2 linked regions of the Homo sapiens genome follow. The protein of the gene in region 1 purifies or fractionates together with the protein of each later gene. This does not show direct contact. Each region holds a gene or a part of one and is shown on either strand. Other genes may lie near its edges.

Evidence for each region. Proteins that work in one complex are often made in the same cells at the same time.
Region 2: the proteins of SLC35B3 (region 1) and UBAC2 purify together in Homo sapiens (affinity purification with mass spectrometry; one large-scale study listed by BioGRID and IntAct). This does not show direct contact.

Annotation. Positions count from the first base shown.
Region 1 is NC_000006.12:8,418,546-8,422,045, forward strand, and holds part of SLC35B3 (adenosine 3'-phospho 5'-phosphosulfate transporter 2), read right to left. Parts: intron 2,284-3,500; coding exon 2,176-2,283; intron 1,133-2,175; coding exon 1,035-1,132; intron 341-1,034; exon of another isoform or gene 199-340; intron 1-198. UniProt on the Homo sapiens protein: Probably functions as a 3'-phosphoadenylyl sulfate:adenosine 3',5'-bisphosphate antiporter at the Golgi membranes.
Region 2 is NC_000013.11:99,378,854-99,382,353, reverse strand, and holds part of UBAC2 (ubiquitin-associated domain-containing protein 2 isoform 1 precursor), read right to left. Parts: intron 1-3,500. UniProt on the Homo sapiens protein: Restricts trafficking of FAF2 from the endoplasmic reticulum to lipid droplets.

The sequences.
Region 1 (3,500 bases):
ACTACTTGCAAAAAAAAAAAACAGTTACAAGAGATACAGAAAGATATTATTTGCAATAACCACAAAAAGATGAAATAACTTTAATAAGTTATTATTAACAATACCTTTAATAAGAAATGTGCTGGATTTACATGAAGAAAACTTTAAACTCTAATGGACATTGAAAAAAAGACCACTTGAGTAAAAGAAAAGTCATACCTTATTCTTGGACTGAAATAATCAAGATGCCATTCTCCCTAAATTAATTTATAATTCAATGCCATACCAATCACAATACCAATGGGATTTTTAGTTTATTTGGGAATATAAACACCCCAGAATAACTACTGGTAGTAATATTCTGCAAAAGAAAAGGAACAATGGTAGCTAGTCCTAACAGATAATAAATGTCTGATAAAGCTGCTGTCATTATATGTACTATTGCAAAAATAAATTCAAATACAATTCTGAATGCCACACAAGAGTGTGATATGATAAAGAGGGCATTTAAAATGAGCTGAAAGTGGATTATTCAATAAATGATATTAGAAAAAATGGTAGTCATTTGAAAGAAAAGTTCTTTTAAAAAAGTTTTAGATTGGATCAAGGGCTTAATAAAAAAGGAAATCACAAAACTAGTAGGCAACAGGGATGAAATGTTCTAAATCTCAGGGTTAGGAAAGCTCTTTTCAACCATGATACTTAGCCAGAAGCCAGCAAGGAAAAGACAAATTGGGCCATATAAAAATTACAAACTTCTACATGGAAAAATACTACCCACTAGAAAGAGATGAGAGAAAGGATATAACAAAAGATTTTATTTTAATACATAAAAAACTAAATCAATGAGGAAAAAATTTGTCAACTATGCAACAAGCGGTTAGCACTGCTAGTTGTAGTTTTAGTTTTTACCTTCCTATAATGTTTGAATGTATTACTTTTGTAAAAATGAGTTTAAAAATGCAATGCTAGTTATAATAATTATTTCATCAAATTACGTGTATCACCATTTTTTAAATCTGTCTAATTTGAAGAAAAAACACTAGAGTATTTACCATTTCAGAATTAGAAGCATTATGAAGTTTCATAGCTTTCTCTTGAACATTTCCAATGACGGCATCTGCACATAGTGCCAGGGAAATAAGCACCACACCTTCAAGAAGGTATTAAAAAAACAAACAAAAAAACCCTCCTTATTTAAACATATGAACTATAATCAAGCTTTATCAGAAATTTCATTGGTCTAAAAAACAAAAGCAGATCTTCAACTACATTTGTTCGGTAATCCAGAATATTCTTATTCACAATCGGTTGTAACAAGTACATATGTGATGATATTAAAAAAGATATACTAATAAACTGAGTTAGTTCTGTACATATCACATTTCACATTTCAATAGCGTATTAAATAACAGTTCCATAAATATTCTACTAGTCTAATAGTTCCACTAGTTCTGAAAGTGTAGAAGAAACTCTTAGGATATCTATCTATTGGGATTGGTGGCTATTCAGTTAATTAAAAAAAAAAAAAACAGATGAAGAGAAAAGTCATTTTTGAAAAACCCTATTATTACTAAAATGTTTAATTTAAATCACATAAACAGGCACGCTGCTGTCAGGGCCTTTTTCTTTGAGCATGGGTCCTGAATAGAATTCCATATTTTCTCCTTTGTATAAACACACTCAGCACACATTTTCCATGATTTCCAAGGTGTTTTTGTTTAAAAGTGCCCTGCAGAGTACAGAATCCTTTCATATGTTTATGAGCTTCCCTCCAATATTCACAGTGGTTTTACCCACACCTCATTCAATAGTGATTTTATTGCTTGTCAATCAAGTTGTGTCAGTTAACTCAGTTTTCACAAAAACAATTATTTGTTCATATTCATTTTTGAATAACGTAATACTGAGTTACGACATAATTATAATAAAGGTACAACTGACATAAACAAATCTGAGTCAACACTTCATTCCTGAGAAGCATCAAAATGCATGCACACTAAAAAACAAACAAATTGTTTTATCTACAGAGCTGTGATATTTTCACTACATCTTATATGGAAAGTCCAAAAGCTTTATGTTAGATATGAAAATTGCAGCTGTCACACTATCATTTAAAATGCTTACAAAATATTCGAAATTCGTATTCTAAACTAAAAAGCCTATAAAAGCTAGGAATATAAATAAATTACTTACCCGTCAGGTTGAAATTTGGTGCAGTTGTGCTGTCAGCGAGGGTAAACCATATCAGGCCAAGGCTCATACATATGGCAGCAGACACATCTGCAACATTATAACGCTTTCCTGTATAAAACAAACGTAAGTCCACTTCATTATGCAAATACCCACCCAGCTTTATATTTGCTCTATGTGTTAAGTAGAACATGGATTTGTTTTTTTATATCCAATGCCAAAAACGTGAACACTTAGGTCAAGGCAGAAGACAGTCACAAGAGGGCTTCTGAAAACTACCAATGGGCAGCAATATGTCCCTGTAAGTTAGAAACGAGAGCTACTTTATCTGGTATAATAGTGACACTAAAATACATACTTTGGCAAAAACTGACAGCAAGAATAATGCACATCCACAAACATTTAAAAAATTTCCTGGAAATTTAGTTCCTGTTTTACTTTGTGCATAATAAAAGGTTATGAATTTTCTCGTAGTTTGTAAATTTACGAAGTAACCAGATTAATGAGTCTGGTTACATAACTGTTTAAGTTTGCAAATATCATAATGTGATAACTTCCAGGCAGGTGAAAATTAAATTATTTTCATATATCATTATTTTAAAAATAAAATGTAGTATGACTTTTTTGTAAGGTTTATAACGACAATATTATATATGCCTAGTCAGTTGGGACAATAAATGTGATTTTTAATAGGGATTGAGGTCAATTATTTTTTCCTATATGAAGTTATCCTGAAATGATACGTGAAGTAGTTGACAACACTTTCATTTTTAAAGGCTTATTCTGGGATGGTATCTAATGCATAAATGATATCAGGCTGTATAAGAACTTCAGTGATACAGAAACACCCGACTATTAAAACACGAATATTCCTCGTGACAATTAATGTGAACAACAGAAGCTACTTCCACTGTTTGTTGCTATCACTGCCTCCTCTTTTACTCGTATTTCCACAAAACTTGTCACTTAGCTGGGGCTCTAAACATCACTAAAGCCAGCAGGTTGGTAAAAACGCAGTTCTGCTCAGATTAAACTTTACTTCAATATGAGAACTGCCCATGCACAATGGAAGTGAAGGGTAGACCCCTGGAGAGTAGAAGAATGAAGGAACTGAAAAAAGGGACCTTTCCACGTACTTTTGAACTAGACCTTTAATACGTAAATATAGTATTGCTGGAAATGTGGTAGATTCCAAAATAAAATAATAAAAACAAAGTATTATCTTTTCTTTTTCTTAAGTCCAAATTACTGACTTCAGAAACTAAGGCATATAAGTGTTTGTTTGTTTGTTTGTTTGTTTGTTTTGAGATGGAGTCTCGCTCTGTCGC
Region 2 (3,500 bases), on another chromosome or scaffold:
CACATAAAATGCTGTCAAGTCAGGTCTCTCAAATCCTACCTGACCTTTTAAGTCTAGGACTCTACATATCTCTGTTAAATTCCATCTGATCATTTTCCAGTCAACCAAAATGAATTATTTTCAATTCTCATTTTGTTATCTACTGTTAATCATCTCCCTCAAACTTGTATCATGCCTAAATTTGATTAGTAAACCTCTACAACTTTGTTCAAGTTATTATTGATGAAAATGTCAAACACGTCAGGTCAAAGAGCCCAGAACTCTGTGTTCAAGGGGTTAATCAACATTTTTAATCAGTTTCAAACCCACTTCATTGCACTATCATTATCCATTCTGCATGTCACCAACATCTCTCATAAGCTGATGAGATGTTGTCAAAGGTCTTGGTGATCTCTTGCCAACAGGATTGGTTTGGTGTCCTAGACCACAGCTGTCTTTTCAACGTTCACAAACCATCTATTTGATAATAATCTGTTTAAGCTTTTGCCAGATGTGAAACTTCAATTCTGCCACTTGGTTCTCAGAATTCACACTTTCCTTTTCCTTAGGAACATTTTCAAGCTAAGTGTTCCTCCCTGTGCTTTCTCAAGCCTCCATCAGGTTGTGCAGGGAGAGGGGCTGGAGGACTCAGGCTGGATATGTGTCATGTGGAAGGAAAACTCTCTCTGATCAAGGTGGTCTTTCCAATCTTGGGTGGAAATAACCTGTATGATGTTCCCTCCAGTTAAGGACCATTGTCATTGGTGGAGATAACTCAGGCCAAACGGGAGCTGGCCTGCCTTCCTTCCACCTACTATCCACCACCATGATGCCATGGCCCCCAAACAACTTGGCCACTCTTAATGACGTTTATTTAAACGGCTTGGAAAAGCTACCTTTACTACTACCTGTAGTACTTCAAGTGCAGCTGAGGACTGGCTGCTTCTTTGCACCCAGCCAGCACAAACGAATCCATTTGCTGTCCACACTCAGCAATTTGGAGATCTGGCAAATGACGATTCATAATCTGGAGTGATGAAGTGTGACTTTAGGCCACAGCTCCACCTGGCACTTGAGCTCTCCCTCCACTGATGATACATTTGGTTTGGAATCCACAGGATGCTGATAATGGGCTGGCTACACACAGGTCACCAACACAGGGCAGCAGCATGGACTGCATGCAGGCCCTGCCCTGGAGAGGGAAGAACCCCTTAGGTCTGGGATGGCTGGGCTGGGTTGTAAGTCACGTAGGTGACATCCTAGAGTAAGAACGAAAGCTTTCTATGTACACGAGACTTCCTTCTGAGTTCATTCTCTCAGACATGAACGACATGTGCCGCGGTGCTGGTTTTGACAACTAAGACTGGCTTTTCACAGGTCTTGGCAGAAGAGAGCGTCTGCTGTCACAGCTTGCAGCGGGCTCGCTCTTCATCCTCTGCGGGGCAGATCATGCCCCTTTAGCCAAAGCTGGCTTCAGAGCTTTAAGTGATTTTTATGGGTGAGAAGACAAGTGTGACAGGAGAACTTTCACTGCCCACTGACCTGTTATTTTCACCAGATTAAAAACTATTGCTAAGTAGCAATAATGTTAGCACAGTTCTTTAAAAAGAATAAACAATTACACTAAGAAAGGGCACCTGAAGGTTTCCCATAGTGTCCAAAACTAAACATCCATGGCAAACTGAAACTGCATGCTTGGGCTTGGGTATGCGATGACAACCAGCCAGCAAGGACGAGAAGGGTCAGGGGATAGGTGTTCCGATGGGTGCTTACCCAATACTCCCCAGTGGAGGGGTGCAGTGCAGTGCTCACAGCCGTGCAAGTTAGCCAAGTGGCCCCTGCTGTCCTTTCTTTATGTAGTTTCAGAGGTTCACCATATAGACAGTAAGAACTGGAGCAAAAACTAGCAGCACAGAGAACAGTTGTCTGTAGGGCTCTTTGGTGGACACTAACAATTACTGCTGTGGCTCTCACTATTCCTCTGCTCAGAGAAGCCCAGCACGCCCAGTCCCCACACATCTCATTACGGTCTCTCCTGGGAAAGCTTACTCGGCATGTGAAGCATCAACTCCTGTGCTCAAATTACAGAAAGACGAAATTGAGGCCTGCGCAGACGTGCAGTCAGGTAAGCAAAACACACGTTAAGCATTCCTAATCTGAAAATTCAAAATCGAAAATGCTCCAGAATTTGAAACTTTTTGAGTACCAACATGGCAGTACAAATGGCAAGTTCCACACCTGACCTCATGTGATGGGCTGCAGTCAAAATGCAGGCCACAACATGTAGTTTATTCAGTGTCTCCAAGGGAAAAGAGACCCTCTCACCCTCCTTCAGCTGTGACATGCCTTTTCTGCACATGCCCCGACTCCCCCACGCAAGCACATGCCAGTGGGCAGGTTCCCCACAATGACCTGCATGGGGCCAAAACCCACGTGCGTCACTCACTGTGCTTTTTTGCTTACTTTCTGCTCTGTGTTATAAAAATGTTGTTAAAATATCTAAAAGGTGTGCAGATACCCTCTGGGTAACAGTGATAAGAAAAAGATTTATGTTTATCTATAGCACAGAAAGTCAAGCTGTTGGAGAAAGTGGAGAGCAGTGTAAGTGTGAAACGTCTTACAGGAGAGTATGGTGTTGGAGTGACCACCATATAGGATCTGAAGAAACAGAAGGATAAACTGTTGAAGTTCTGTGCTAAAAGTGATAAACAGAAATTAATGAAAAATAGAGAAACACTGCATAAAGCTAAAAATGAAGATCCTGATCATGTACCGAGGATGGATCCCTTGGTGTTGCAGTGAACACCTGCCACTTAATGCTATGTGGGTCAGGAAACAAGCAAGGATCTATCAGGATGAGGAACTGAAAATGAAAAGGAACTATGAATATTCAACATGTTGGCTGCAGAAATTTAAGAAAAAACATGAAACCAAATTTTTTAATGTGGTGACAAAGCATCATGAAGCAGCAAAGAAATTCATTGGTGAGTTTGCCAAGGTCATTGCTGACAAAAATCTGATGCCAGAACAAGTCTATAATGCTGATGGAACATCACTGTTTTGGTTTTATTGCTCCAGAAAGACACAACTACAGCTAATGAGACAGCCCCTCCAGGAACTGAGGACATCAAGGGCAGAACAACTTTGCTGGGATGTGCTAATGCAGCAGGCATGCATAAGCGTAAACTTGCATGACAGGCAAAAGTTTGTGTCCTTGCTGTTTTCAAGCAGCGAATTTCTTACCAGACCATTATTATGCTAACAAAAAGGCATGTTTAACTAGGGATATCTTTTCTGATTGGTCTCACAAACATTTTGGACCTGTGGCTTGTGCTCACTGCAGGGAAGCTGGGCTGGATGATGACTGAAATATTTTGTTATACCTTGACAACTTTTCTGTTCATCCTCCAGCTGACATCTCATCAAAAATCATGTTTATGCCATGTACTTTTCCCCAAATGTGACTCCATTAATTCAGCCATGTGGCCAAGGTATTCTTAGATCAATGAAGGATAAATATA